Linked DNA regions of Homo sapiens: regions 1 and 3 are each linked to region 2. Evidence: fine-mapped expression QTL. A gene starts in region 2. Each other region holds a variant in brackets. All regions are shown on one strand. Distances are from middle to middle.

Evidence for each region. PIP is the estimated chance that this variant, and not a neighbour inherited with it, causes the effect.
Region 1: its variant is fine-mapped to the expression of C10orf105 in whole blood (TOPMed, PIP above 0.99).
Region 3: its variant is fine-mapped to the expression of C10orf105 in whole blood (TOPMed, PIP above 0.99).

What each region holds. Positions count from the first base shown.
Region 1 is chr10:71,741,374-71,746,373 of GRCh38, reverse strand. It overlaps CDH23 (cadherin related 23), which reads right to left. Exons shown (of 70, transcript NM_022124.6): 38 at 4,453-4,680. Among named protein-coding and RNA genes, the nearest start is that of C10orf105, 24 kb to the right of the region's middle. The variant A/G (reference allele first, on the strand shown) is at 2,556.
Region 2 is chr10:71,716,791-71,721,790 of GRCh38, reverse strand. C10orf105 (chromosome 10 open reading frame 105) reads left to right here and starts at 2,013. Exons shown (of 2, transcript NM_001164375.3): 1 at 2,013-2,164. The region is part of intron 28 of CDH23 (cadherin related 23); the gene reads right to left. RefSeq lists an enhancer at 1,876-2,624 and a silencer at 4,541-4,738.
Region 3 is chr10:71,749,459-71,754,458 of GRCh38, reverse strand. All of the region lies in intron 38 of CDH23 (cadherin related 23), which reads right to left. VSIR (V-set immunoregulatory receptor) reads left to right here. Exons shown (of 7, transcript NM_022153.2): 5 at 1,457-1,484; 6 at 2,598-2,791; 7 at 3,169-5,000. The coding sequence ends at 3,206. Among named protein-coding and RNA genes, the nearest start is that of VSIR, 22 kb to the left of the region's middle. The variant C/T (reference allele first, on the strand shown) is at 2,558.

The DNA.
Region 1 (5,000 bases), 25 kb before region 2:
AGCTCTCAGGAACCTGGGGGGACGAGGGTCTCAGGGAGAAAAGTAGAGCTGGAGGGACTCAGAGAATTTCTCTTGGCTCTGGGGAGGGTCTTAGCAGCCAAATCTCAGGCCCCCTGCTTAGGGAGCCACATCTTTCAAAACAGGGATGCAAATGATGCTTCCTCCAGAAAACCTGCCCTGGCTTCCAGGCTCCTAGCACTCTACCACATCACAGTGTCAGCTCTCCAGTACATGTGCCTTCCCCTGCCAGACCGTAGGCTCCTGGAGGGCAGACCTGTGCCTGATGTATCTCTGGTGTCCTAGCCTGTACTACAGGCCTCACACATAACACATACTTGGTGTTGGATGAACAAATGAATGAATCTTTCATGCCCTTGTCCTCCAGCAAGGTTGGTCCTGAGCCAGTGAAGGCCATTTTGAAGCCAGGCAGATAACTGCAGTGGGAGTAAAAGGATGGCAAGTGGGCCTGCTGGCTTTCTCTGGATGGATCTATGCAGGGTAGCAGCTGCTGTCTCACCCATTAGACTGTGGCAGCCATTCCTGGAATCTCAGGGTGGTTGGCTGCATGCTGCTCAGGTCTCTGGTTGCTCTAGGAGGGGCTGGGACAATGCTCCTTCCTCATACACGCATCCAGTGAAATCTGCCCAGAGGCAGAGAAGGGCTCTGCTCTTGGGGATATTCATAACCCTGAGGGGTTTACTGCCCAAAGTTGAGGGTCTGGTCAGTGGAAGCAAATCTTCAAGGGTCCAGTGCTCCTTGGAGGCAAGCTACCCTGGTAGGCACTGTGGGCTGCAGGACCCCTGCTTGCTAGCTCTGCCCCATCCCCACCTTGGCTCGGCCAGGCATGGAGGCAGTAGAGGGGGGGTCTTGAGAAGGCAGCGGGAGCAGCTCTTATGGCGAGTCCCATATACACTGTCCCGGGAGGATATGGAAATAGAGAGTCCTGCCCTTGGCCTTGGAAGCAGCCCCGGGCCTAAACCACCTGTGGCTCCCAGAACCCATCCCTGATTATTGCTTGCTCTTCAGCCTTTGTGCAGGCTGAACCCCAGAATATGCTTCTTTCTTGGCTGTGCTAACCAAGACTGACCAACAAGACTCGGCCCAGGTGTCACCTCCTCCAGGAAGCCTTCCCCAAGCCCTTCTCAGTGCCCCATTGCACACCAGTGTTTTCATTGCCTCCCTTACTCAACTTCATTTCTTCAGGCCACAGACCACATTTTCTTCATTTCGGTATCTCCAGTGCCTGGCACATAGTGGCCATTCAGGGACAATGGCTGAATGAATGAATGAGTGAATGAGTGAATGAGTGAATGAATGAATAAATATGGTTTAGTGCTAGTTTCTCTATGTCCCTATGGTCACTGCAATTCTTCACTGAGGTGTCCCCTGCAAAAACCAAATGATAGCAATATTTTCCCAACTTGGAGAAGCAGGGGGAAAAATTGAAGATGGATGGATTCTTTTCGACTTAAAATTGTTTTCCTATACATCTTTCAAGTTGGTACCTGTTGCTGTTTATATTACGGTCTGGAAGAAAGCATCATGGTTCAGCCCAGGAAGCCCCATATATATTCCCCTGGAGATGGATGGCCTCAGGGTCCCTGGTCCTAATCATCCTGAGGGTGTTTTCTGGGGCCTCAGGGAGCAGAGCTGGTGATGACCAGGATGAGCAGGGCGGATGCTACCCAGCTTCTCCTGCTCTCACCGGGGAGCTGGTATGGGCTGAGCCCTGCTTCAGTGAGAACCAGAATGTCAGGGGCTGACATGTGAGGTGGGAATGCTTATGCTCCCCAAGGGGTGGGATGGGTCCCTGCAGAGGGTTTGGCCAGCAGATGGAAACTCTTTTTAGCCATGGGGACCAATCCCAAGATTTTAAAGGATTGCTTGGATAGTGGCCCATGCATTCTGGGTGATTAACTGTGGCCAGGGTGATTTTCCATTTCTTCAATTCCCATTTATTCTGGGGACCCAAAGGAAGCCTGATTTTGCCTACAAACTGCAGGGTCTTAGAATGTTATGGATTCCACCGATGGTCTCCCTGAGAGACCCTAGGACTGTGGGGGTTGGAGTGTGGGTGGGGAGTGGGGGTGGTGCGTTGACTGGCCTGCATTAGGATTGGGGAGGGCAGTGTGGCAAATGCTGTCAGATGCCCACCCCAAATCCATTCTCCACTTCTTCCTCACTGACAGAGGCCTGCTTTTGTGTGGGAAGTGATATATCTGGCCCCCAAGTAATATGCTGACCATGATAATCCTGTCCCTCATTTTTTCTAACCTCCCTTGCAGCTAGGGTGCCCACGTGAGCCACTTCTGGCCAAGGAGACACAAGCAGCACTCTGGAGGGTGGTTCTGGGAAACCTGTTGCTTTCCTGATAAAAGGGCAGAAGTAGCTGCCATAGCCCTTTGCCATCTTTTTGTCATCTTCCTGCCTTGGATGCTGACTTGATGCCTAGAGTTATAGTAGCTATCTTGCCACCATGAGGGAAAGGCCAAGAAACATGAGCTCTGACACCTCTGAGCCTGAAATCCACATTCTCTGTAGAATTTTTGCTCTGT[A/G]GGAAAATGCATTTTGATTCTTTATGACTCCATAGTCAGTTTCTGTTACTTCACAAATGCTATTGAAGGGACGACCAAGATGATCCACCCTGAAGCCAAGTGCAGTGGGGTGGGGTCATGTCGAAACTGGGTCCTCCCACGTTAACACAATAAATGATACCCCTCTCTGCCCCAGCCCCACCCTGCCCAGTGAGTGACACGTGTCCTATAAATGTATCCTTGTTTAGCCCACTGGGTGTGAATGGCTGAGGTGGCTAGTGATGACACTGTGCAGCCATGGGGCTAAGGATGCCCACAGGGGTGCCCAGAGTCAGTCTCATTTCCTGGACTCCTCAGAATGTTGTGGTGGGGTGGGGATTCCTGGATTATTAACCCAATCCCAATTCCTGGAGTTATTGGACCAACATCTCCAGAGAAGCTCCAGACAAAGAGCCCTGCCCAGACCTGGTGTGACCCCACCTCCCACAGTGCTGCTGTCAAAGGGGAGAGGTCTAACCTGCTATGAGAGGGACAGAGCTGGGGCCTCATTTGCAATCAGGGTCCTTCCAGGAGACAGATTACAAAACTGTCCCTGAACTCTTCACCTTCCTTGTAACCACACTCTTTGCAGTGTGACTTTGTAGCTCATTCCTTCAGAAGGTAGAGTTTATTTTCCCATAGCTTGAGTCTGGGCTGGCCTTGTGACTTGCTTTGGCCAACAGATTGTGGTAGAAGTGACCTTGTGCCAGTTCCAAGCCAGGGACTCAAGAGGCCTTGCACGCCTCTGCTGTCTCTTCTGGACACTTTCCAGCCCCATAAGAACAGGCACGGGCTAGCCTTCTGGAGGATGAGTTGTCCCTGTCACCCCAGCTGCTGGCGAGCCAACCCTCAGAAGCATAGCACCCTGCTGACAGGCAGCTGCCCACATACAAATGCAGAAGCCCAGCTGAGACCAGAAGAACCACCCGGCTAAGCCATGTCCAGATTGCCAGCCTGCAGAATTAGCGCTAACTATGTGGTTATTGTTTTACTCCTCTGTTTTGTTTGGTTTGTAAGGCAGCATTATTGTGGCAATAGAGAACTAATAACAGTCCTCTTCCTCCTCATGGTTTACCAAGTGCTTCCACAGACATGAGCTAATTTGATTCCCCAAACAACACCTATGAGGTAGATATTATCTCCCTTTTGCAGATGACAAAAGCGATATGCTGAGAGGTTCTGACTTGCTCAAGATCATGCAGCCAGCCACAGTGCTCCTGACTCCAAATTCCCTGCTTTCAGTTTATAAGCCACTCCCAACACAGCTCATCAGCTCCTAGAGATCTCCATCCAGCCCTTGAGGACCACAAGTCCTTCCCTCACCTGGCAAACTTTGAACATTGCCTTGGGCAGTGGTGCTGTTCATTCGAGCGTTAGTGTGAACCACAGACACGAATCCCTTCCCACCCTGACGTGTTGTGACAGCATGCCACACCACACAATGTAGGGGAAGAGGGCCAGAGAGGCACCCTTTCTGTAAGACACCACCATGCACATTGGTGTGACCTCACAGTGCATAGGTGGGCAAGTGAAGCGGGGGCTAGATTCATACCCACTTGCTCCCTGGGCCAGGCCCCAATACAGAGGCTCAACCTGTACCACCCCATAGAGCTGCTCTGTGAGAGAAAAGAGGACTAAACAGAGCTTCTGAGTAGCTATAGACTCGGGAGGCCAAACTAGCACCCCAGCTTTGCACGCAACAGGCCTCCGTAAGGGGAGGCCATCTTGGGCAGATGGACTAAAGGCAGATGGACTAAAGGAGTTGTCAAGGATTCGCCTGCTGTGTGGAATTCCATTCTCACCCATCTTGTTCCCCTCACTCGGAGGCGGAGCTGCCCTGGCCCACCCGCTCCTCCCTGTGGCCACCCCCATCGCTCACCGACAGGGTTGGGGTGCCCTCGTCCTCCACAGTGGCCACCAGGTGGTAGAAGCTCTGGCGCTCGCGGTCAGGCGGGGCAGGCCGTGTGGCGATCTCACCGCTGATGCGGTCCATGCGGAAGGCCATGTCCTTGTTGCCCTCGGTGATGTAGTAGGACAGAACACTGTTGATCCCGATGTCACGGTCAGTGGCTCTCACCTGGACCACAGCAGTACCTCCACCCACGTTCTGGGAGGAGAGCAGGAGAGCAGTCATTCTGGACTCAAGGCATTGGGGCACAGTCTGGCACCTGCTCCTGTAGCCCGAAGGCTCCCCCTGTACCTCCCAAAAGCTTTGCTGCATCTACCCCAGAGCAATGATGGAGATAATAAGGATGATAGCAGCGAACATTCTGTGAGCACCTCTGATATGCTGGGGCCTGCATTAACTCACTGGGTCCTCTCTCCAACTCTGTGAGTTAGGTACTGGCATCATCATCCTCATTTACAGAAGAGAAAACTGAGGTGCAGGGAAGGAATGTGTGCAAGTCCACACAGCCAATCAGTGGG
Region 2 (5,000 bases):
TCAGCAGCACTGATGCCCTGGAACCTCCACAGGACAGGGAGTATAGACATGGTGGTATGAAGGCAGAGCGAGGAGCCTGTAGCAGGCGCTGGCCTCGATGCACATCCGGGCACTGCGGTAAGTGTGTCTAAGGATTCTGATGAGCATGTTGATGGTGGGGAGGAGGACGAGTACACTGGAGCAAAAAGAACAAGGGCCCTGGGTCAGGCACACCCAAGCATGAATTTAGGCTTTGTCACTTACTCTCTATGGCACTATGGATAAGTACTTTAGCCCCCTTGAGCCTCAGTTTTCTCATCTCTAGACTGGGCACAATGATGACCAGCCTTGCAGGGTTGAGGGGAAGATCAGAAGTCATCTTGCAAAGCGTCTTGGCTGGTGCCTAGCATGGGGATGTGTGGTGAAGGTCAACATGAGTGATGCCACCTTCTCCAGAGAGCCCTCTGGATTTATGCCAGAGCTGGGGATGGCTGGATTGCCCCTTGCCGTGCAGTTCTTTCTCTCTCCATTCCCTGAGAAACCTTAGGAGCTGGCAGGTGGAGGGATGTAACAGGGTGCTTCAATTGTCCAGATCTGGAAGGGCTCAGGATGGTGAAGAGAGCCACGTTGCCCAGAGCATGCCCTTGCATGCCTATCCATGGTGAGATTTCCTTGATGCCTCCCTGCTCCAGCAGCCTGCACCACCCTGGAAGCTTTGTCTTCTGTCATCTCAGGAGGAATGGGGGCCACAGATGAAGTGTTCAGTTGGTTTCAGGAGAGGAAGTTAAGGAAAATGAAGGCAGTGAATGCTGTGATGGAAGGTGCAGGAATCCCAATGGGGACTCTGGGCATTGAAAACACCTTTGGGCCGGATGCTTTGCCTACCCTGGATGCCTACTGCCTGCCCCTGCCCACCCAGCACAGGGGAAACACCAAGTCCCCCACCACTCACTTGCTGGGTGCCCCTGGGCAGGTCACACCTCTCTGGGCCTCAGTTTGGTCATCTGAGAGAAGACGGGGGCTCTTTTCTCTCAGAAGAGGAGTTAGATGACCCCTGAGGACCTCTCCAGCTTTAACAGTCCATAGGAAATCTCTTGTCCATCTTGGGGTTGGCAGACAGTGCCTCTTTTTATGGGCAAGGGCAGGAGGGAACAGCTAAAAACCAGAAACTGGGGCTCCAAAAAAGGGAATGGGTCTGAGGCTCAGGTCTTGGACAGGGCCATGACTCCTGTCTTGAGTTGCATTTCTGGGAGCTTGGAGGTCCCTGGTGGGGAAGCTGCCAAAGACTTGGGCTCCTAAGCAGGCAGCTGGTTGTCAGGGAAGCTCTGGCTTCTGGGGAGAAAGAAGGCTGGGGGAGGGAAGTGTGTGTGTGTGTGTGTGTGTGTGTGTGTTTTGGAAAGAGCCTCCAGTGGAGGTCTCCCGTGGCCCACCCGCACTGTGGGGAGCATGGCCTTGGAGGTCCGTCAGTCCTATGCTTTCTGCCCTGGGATCCCCCTGACCTTTGAAGATGCCCCTCACCCCTCGCTTCTGTAGCCAGACACCTTCAAAGGGAAGGTGCTTTTCTACAAGCTGAGGGAAAAGCCTGGAAGGAATGGGGCCCAGGGACGCTGCAGGAGGGGCCTCAGGGGCTGCCAGGGACCAGCACTCTCCCTGCTCCCCTCCTGCCATGGCTTGTAGCCCCTCTCCAGGGTAACCTGGTGGCTGGCAGGCACTGAATAGCGAACCTCTGGCTGCCGCCGACCATACCATTCAAACTTCCGACAGGGGAAGGTGAGCGCCATGGGGCCGCAGAGGCAGTAAAACCCTCCCCCTGCGTCTCCCCAGAGTCTTCCACCCCTGAGAGGGCTCCAAGGAGACAGGCTGGAGAGAGGCGGTGGGAAGGCCAGGGGGCATCCCAGAGTCTCTGGACAGCTCCCCTCTCCCTCTTCCCAACCCAGTTGCCATCCCTACTCCCTTAGCTATCCCCTCCCCCAAGGCAGGGCCCAAACTCTTCTAGACAAAGCCAGGTCCAGCTGGGGAGTGACGGGGAGGCCACTCTGCTGGCCAGGCTGACCGAGGGCTGCAGGGCACAGCAGAGCCTGGCAGGGCTGGGGTCACAGGCACTGCCCAGGGCTCCTTGGGCCTCCCTTCCACAGCTGAGAAGACCTCTCCACGGAGCTCCGGACGGCTGGGGTCTGGCTCTGAGGTCAGTGCTTGGGGGACTGCAGGAGAAGGCTTGGAGAGGGAAGTGTGGTGGAGACCCTTGCTGGGGACTCCTGGGAGAATGTGAGGGTATGCTCAGACCTAGGCAGTCCTCTGGTTCTGTAGAGAGGGGAAACAAGGCCCAGTAAGGGGTAGGGACTAGCCCGAGGCCACACAGCAGTCTTCTCTGCCCACAGCAGGTCCTGCTCTGTGGAACTCCAAGGGAAGAGGAGGGTCCTAGACTGAGCTTGCAGAGATATGTCCAGAGCAGGGCCCGCTGGTGCACCCTGGCCCCAGTGGGAAGGGAGTGGCTTCAACTGCCCTCCAGATGATTCCTGGCCTTGGTCCGGGCAAGGCATCCTCTCCCAGTACTAGCTGGCCTTTGCTGGTTGGTCAGTAGCCGGGTGTCAAGGGGCCTGGCAGCTGGACTTGCCTCGTGCTCCAGGAAGGGTGTTGTGTTGTTTTCAAGCACTTAGGAATCTCTCGTTGCCACAGGAACTACTCAGATGCTAATTACAACTCCACTTATTTTTTTTTTATTTTTTATTTTTTTGAGACAGAGTGTTGCTCTGTCGCTCAGGCTGTAGCGCAGTGGCATGATTCTAGCTCGCTGTAGCCTCAAACTTTTGGGCTCAAATGATCCTTCTGCCTCAGCCTCCTGAGTAGCTGGGGCCACAGGCACATACTACCACACCTGGCTAATTAAAAAACCTTTTTTTTTTTTCTTTCAGAAATGAAGACTCACTATGTTGCCCAGGCTGTTCTCAAACTCCTGGGCTCAAGTGATCCTCCTGCCTTGGCCTCCCAAAGTGCTGGGATTACAGGTGAGAGCCAACACGCCTGGCCTCACTTATTTTTTAAATTAAAGCAGGTCCCAAGGCCTGAAGCCTGGATCCTATTTGCTAGCCCAGTAGGGTCTCCAGATTCCTTTGAAGGCCTTGAAATAACATTAGAACTAGTAGGATTGAGGCATCTCCCATTTCAGACTGCCCTTTTCTTACTCCTGGCCAAGCATTGTCCAGGGTAGGAGAGAGGGATGGCTGATTTTCTCCCCACGGGAATGAGCGGTGGGCACACCCCATCCCTCCTCCCTGCTCAGACTCAAGGAAAGGCCAACCCATGCACAGCTGCCCAGCCAGAGTGCTCTCTAGGCCTGATGCCGCAAAGGCGGAGGCCCTGGGCAGCTAGACGGGCATCACACTTTCCAGCCAGGCACTGGGAGGGGTCGTTTTCTGCCTGGAAGTGCTGGGAGGGGTGGTGGTGGGGAATGGGTGGGAGGTGGGGTGCTCTGCATGCCCTCAGTTGGCTGGGCGCAGGGAGCCAGGAGTGAGGTCCTGCGGCTGCTGGTGAGTGCCTGGGGTAGGGACAGGAGTCCCTCGGGTGGGGAACTAGGTGGCCCACTCCCCTCCCCACTACCTGTGGCAGGGTTTCTCTGAGCGTGACCTGACATCTTTCCTCCTCCTGAGCTTCCGTGCTAGAAACTCAACTGTTATCTAAGCTGCAAGCTGGGAAGGAGGAAAATCTGCTATCCCCCACCCTCATGAAAAGGAAAGACCCCAAGGTTAAAGGGAAATCATGACTTTTTATCAGACCCCCTGGGATTGCTTGTCCACGTCAGTAGAATTTAAATATCACACATGCTGACCTGCAAGCTGGACGTCCTCTGCTTATGTGTTTGGTTTGGCCTGTGTAGTGTTTCAAATATTTGAAAATTCATTTCACATTATTTTGAAATCAAGTTTATTTGGCTTTTGCTGTGTTCTCCCCCACCCCACCTCTCTTCTTTCTTGCCTTCAACAAATTTGAATTAGCTGCCAACATTTAAACGTCTAGAATGTTTGCCTTTAAAAAAATCCAGATTTCTGGCTTCTCTTGGGAAACTGACAGAGCTGACCACACTGGGCCTGCACTCCGGCACTGACAGCACCATTCTGGGCTGAGGCCCCTCCACTTCCTTGAGAGGGCCCAGCCAGTGCTCTCCAGGTGGCCCTGCTCATCTGTACCCTCTGGTCATGTGTTATCTGCTGGCCAGGATCTGTGAGCATTTTTATTACAACCCCAGACATATTGAGCCAAAAGCTCAGCCTGGTTTTCCATCGACAAGGACCGTCTGCTGCACTGCGTCTAATGGGATGATCTTCAGTGGGAAAGGAAATGCCCTGTCAGGTGTATGATGTCCCTGGGGGGTTTCCAGCCCCCTTGTCAACTCCTTGTGGGTTTATTTCCCACCTGTTCCCAGAGCAGCTCACTGAGCTCCGAAAGGGCTGGGGGCCAGAGGGGTGGCAAGGCCATGGGGCCAGGAGTCAGGAGACCTGCTTCTGACCTTCACTTGGCCATTGGCTCACAATGTGGCCTTGGCCTTCCCACCACCAAGCTGCCCCACCCCACCCTACTGTGACCCACAATGCAGCCAGCCAAGCCTTCCCAAGGAGTGAGCTCTGGCTTGTCACTCCCCACCTCTAAAACCTTCACTGGCTCCCTAATGCCAAATCCCCTCTTCGGACCTCAGTTTCCCACCTGTCGTGGGAGCAAGTTGGACTGCATGGGGAAGCAGTCACAGGAATCCCCACGGGGCCAGGCAGGTGAAATAAGGTGTGTGGTGGGCCTGTGGGGGAGGGTGGGGAGCTGGAGGTCAGTGCCCTGTCTACAGGGGGCAGCGGCTGCTCAGCCCCAGACACAGGGATGAGGCAGGAACATGGGCCAATGCCAGTGGTGAAATTCTGACATTTCAAGAGAATTCAGGCACCCATATATTTTTGTGAAATCTGTTATTATTTTGAAAATATTCATAATTACATTGATAAAAACATGGCAAGGACCCAACTAAACACACCCGTGGG
Region 3 (5,000 bases), 33 kb before region 2:
TCTGCCTGGCTACAGAGGTAACTGAGAAAGGATTGCTCTGGTGCCAGGTGGCTTTTGGCTCGCAACTTATTTCCTGTGGCCGGCCCTTAACAACTTGTCATCCCTCCCTCCCCTCATTCCCGGGGGCCCCCACGTGAAGCCCCATAGTGGGTCACTCGGGGGCTGTGGCCACCTCACCCTTGCTTTCAGAACTCCCCTATTCCTCTCCTAGAACACACCACAACCTACCTGCAGGAATACCCATGGCTGGGGGTGGGTGGGGGCAGGTAAAGGGCTTGGAACAGAAGAGCAACGCTGGGCAGCAGGGCAGGGGGAGCAGGTGTTGCTGTGCCCTCCCTGGTGGAAGGCTGGCCCAGAGAGCCTGCTCAGGAATGAGGCACTCTCAGGAAAAAAAGAAAAGGAAAGGGCTGGGAGCCTTGAGGACGGCAGTTTGCTGGAGAGGCCAACAGGTGTGGATTTCCATCCTGCTTTGGACTGAGCCTCAGTTTCCCCAGCTCTAAAATGGGACCAACAACCCTCACCCCAAAGGGTGGCACAGAGGATGAGATGAGGGAATACCCGTGTGCACCTGCACGAAGCCTGACCCATGAGTCGGCTGTAAGCAATAGCCATGGTTTGAATAGATTTCAGGAACTTTTGGGTAACTTCCCTGTGTTTGTTCTGTTGTTGTGCCCCTCCCCCACCATCTGTTTCCCCATCGTAATCAGCAGTAAATCTCCTTAAAACGAGAAGCATCTGTGGGAGGACATGGGGTGCTGCATGAAAGAGGGAAGTTGGGGTCACTGCATCTAATTGGTGGCCAGTTTGGGGGGTGGGGTGTCCCAAGGCTGAGGCAAGCGGCAGCAACTTGGATGAGAAGCAGAAAGTGAGTGAAGTGGCTGGGAAGTGATCGGGGACTTGCACCTTGTAAGGTTTCCCTGAGAGATGTCCCCTAGAATGCCACCCTATTAGGCAATGTAGGGGATAGGACAGAGAGGACCAGGAGCCCTCTAATTAGGAACTGACCTTAAACACTCCCACCCAGTAAGTCATGGCTAAAGACCAGAACCTGGCAAATGTTCAAACAAGAGACACCAGTTAGCAAATTCAAGAGTTGACCTTTGCTCGATACTTAAATCCTGAAGGTCTGACACTGTGTAAGTCAAGCCATAGGAGAAAGCGCTGGCTGCCTTTGGTCTCCTGATGGCAGATAGCGTTCTTACACTCCTGGAAAATGCAGATAGAGTTTCATTTATCAGTCGTCAAAATGGGCCCCTCATGGAGGCCCCATCTGCTGGACAGACACGCAGATCGCTTGCTGGACAGCACCCATGTGAAAAGAAATGGAGTCCGGAGCTGTGCAGGGCCCTCCTGGGCTCGCTCCTGTTCCCTGCAGGGCATCTGCCAGCAGGGGCAGGGATGTTGTATGGGGAAGCCTTCCCTTCCATGACCAGCTTCTCTGTCTGTCTGTCCCTAGGTGCCCAGGAGCTGGTGCGGATGGACAGGTAAGGCCCATGGAGACCTTCTTGAGAAAACTTCCTGGGCCGGCTATCCAGGAAGAGATACTTCTGTGCAGTAGGGGCCCTGTTTAGCTGCCTAGAGCAGCTGGTCAGAAGAGCCTCTGCCATCTGCTGCTGAAGCCTGCACATCTGTGCAGATTGGCTGTTCTCCTGCCACCCCGACTCAGCAGGCTGAGCTCTGATTCTGCTCAGATGTGTCATGCACCCACCTTCGGGTCTCAGTGGTCAGCCTGGGCCAGGATGGGGACAGGGAGGAAGCACTGTCTGGGGCAGACAGTGAGACATGCAAAGGAGGCCAGCGGGCCCAGCCCCAGCCACAGCCCTTGAGCTGTGCCTCCTGCCCGCAGAGAACTCCAAGGAGAAAGCTGTTAGGCCGCTGCAGGCCACAAGGGCAGAGGCTGAGGGGTCCCAGAGTGGTGCAGTGGGCTGGGTCTAGGGGCAGAGGGGATGGGGACTGTGTATTGGTGTGCTCTGGGCAGGAAGCTGCCATGCAGCCTGGCCTGGAGGGTGTGTTCAGGGAACCCAAGTTCCTGCCCCGGTACCTGCAACACCAAACACAAAGCTCCTCTAGGTGTTTGAAAGGGATGATCTTCAAGACAGGTTGAAGGAAGTCCTGCTTGCAACTCATCTAGAATCTAAGAGTTGCAGGGGTCTTCAGAAGTTATCCCACTCCCAACTGGGAAGAGAAGAGAACCCCTCCCCTCAGCTCAAGACAGGCTTTGGGGATGTTCGATCCTAATGCCATCAACTCTATTGACCAAAGAGAAACTTGTCCCCAAATTCCTGAGGCTGAAGTTCTAGAAGTGTCTGTGATTTTTGGCTTCCTGGCTGTGCCCGGGGTTGATGGTCAGACCACAGGGAGGAGCTGGGGTCTGTTCTGGTGGGCCCTGATGCCCTCAGCTCAGGACAGGTGGGCAGGTGCAGCCCATGGCCTTTGCTCTGTGGGCCTGGCTCCTGCCTTCTTGCTTGGAGATGCTGCTGAGGCTTGGGGATGGGGATGTAGGTGAGAGAAAGGGAGGAGAGAAAAACTGGGGGCAGGGAGGGCAGAGTTCACGCTC[C/T]GGACAGCACAGATGACCTTCCATTCTGGTTCTGTGGCAGCAACATTCAAGGGATTGAAAACCCCGGCTTTGAAGCCTCACCACCTGCCCAGGGGATACCCGAGGCCAAAGTCAGGCACCCCCTGTCCTATGTGGCCCAGCGGCAGCCTTCTGAGTCTGGGCGGCATCTGCTTTCGGAGCCCAGCACCCCCCTGTCTCCTCCAGGCCCCGGAGACGTCTTCTTCCCATCCCTGGGTAAGTGTTTCCTGACCTTCACAGCACGATGACCTGTAAGGTCATGACCTCATGGCCTGCAGGGCATCGGCCTCACTCCCTGCCCTCCCTGAAGAGTTCCACGGCCTCACGGGGTGGGGTTGAGGGTGAGGGACAGAGGGGCCCCCATTCACCTCCCTGAAGAGTTCCACGGCCTCACGGGGTGGGGTTGAGGGTGAGGGACAGAGGGGCCCCCATTCACCTCCCTGAAGAGTTCCACGGCCTCACGGGGTGGGGTTGAGGGTGAGGGACAGAGGGGCCCCCATTCACCTCCCTGAAGAGTTCCACGGCCTCACGGGGTGGGGTTGAGGGTGAGGGGCAGAGGGGCCCCGTTCACTTTGCTTCTCCTTTTCTTGCAGACCCTGTCCCTGACTCTCCAAACTTTGAGGTCATCTAGCCCAGCTGGGGGACAGTGGGCTGTTGTGGCTGGGTCTGGGGCAGGTGCATTTGAGCCAGGGCTGGCTCTGTGAGTGGCCTCCTTGGCCTCGGCCCTGGTTCCCTCCCTCCTGCTCTGGGCTCAGATACTGTGACATCCCAGAAGCCCAGCCCCTCAACCCCTCTGGATGCTACATGGGGATGCTGGACGGCTCAGCCCCTGTTCCAAGGATTTTGGGGTGCTGAGATTCTCCCCTAGAGACCTGAAATTCACCAGCTACAGATGCCAAATGACTTACATCTTAAGAAGTCTCAGAACGTCCAGCCCTTCAGCAGCTCTCGTTCTGAGACATGAGCCTTGGGATGTGGCAGCATCAGTGGGACAAGATGGACACTGGGCCACCCTCCCAGGCACCAGACACAGGGCACGGTGGAGAGACTTCTCCCCCGTGGCCGCCTTGGCTCCCCCGTTTTGCCCGAGGCTGCTCTTCTGTCAGACTTCCTCTTTGTACCACAGTGGCTCTGGGGCCAGGCCTGCCTGCCCACTGGCCATCGCCACCTTCCCCAGCTGCCTCCTACCAGCAGTTTCTCTGAAGATCTGTCAACAGGTTAAGTCAATCTGGGGCTTCCACTGCCTGCATTCCAGTCCCCAGAGCTTGGTGGTCCCGAAACGGGAAGTACATATTGGGGCATGGTGGCCTCCGTGAGCAAATGGTGTCTTGGGCAATCTGAGGCCAGGACAGATGTTGCCCCACCCACTGGAGATGGTGCTGAGGGAGGTGGGTGGGGCCTTCTGGGAAGGTGAGTGGAGAGGGGCACCTGCCCCCCGCCCTCCCCATCCCCTACTCCCACTGCTCAGCGCGGGCCATTGCAAGGGTGCCACACAATGTCTTGTCCACCCTGGGACACTTCTGAGTATGAAGCGGGATGCTATTAAAAACTACATGGGGAAACAGGTGCAAACCCTGGAGATGGATTGTAAGAGCCAGTTTAAATCTGCACTCTGCTGCTCCTCCCCCACCCCCACCTTCCACTCCATACAATCTGGGCCTGGTGGAGTCTTCGCTTCAGAGCCATTCGGCCAGGTGCGGGTGATGTTCCCATCTCCTGCTTGTGGGCATGCCCTGGCTTTGTTTTTATACACATAGGCAAGGTGAGTCCTCTGTGGAATTGTGATTGAAGGATTTTAAAGCAGGGGAGGAGAGTAGGGGGCATCTCTGTACACTCTGGGGGTAAAACAGGGAAGGCAGTGCCTGAGCATGGGGACAGGTGAGGTGGGGCTGGGCAGACCCCCTGTAGCGTTTAGCAGGATGGGGGCCCCAGGTACTGTGGAGAGCATAGTCCAGCCTGGGCATTTGTCTCCTAGCAGCCTACACTGGCTCTGCTGAGCTGGGCCTGGGTGCTGAAAGCCAGGATTTGGGGCTAGGCGGGAAGATGTTCGCCCAATTGCTTGGGGGGTTGGGGGGATGGAAAAGGGGAGCACCTCTAGGCTGCCTGGCAGCAGTGAGCCCTGGGCCTGTGGCTACAGCCAGGGAACCCCACCTGGACACATGGCCCTGCTTCTAAGCCCCCCAGTTAGGCCCAAAGGAATGGTCCACTGAGGGCCTCCTGCTCTGCCTGGGCTGGGCCAGGGGCTTTGAGGAGAGGGTAAACATAGGCCCGGAGATGGGGCTGACACCTCGAGTGGCCAGAATATGCCCAAACCCCGGCTTCTCCCTTGTCCCTAGGCAGAGGGGGGTCCCTTCTTTTGTTCCCTCTGGTCACCACAATGCTTGATGCCAGCTGCCATAGGAAGAGGGTGCTGGCTGGCCATGGT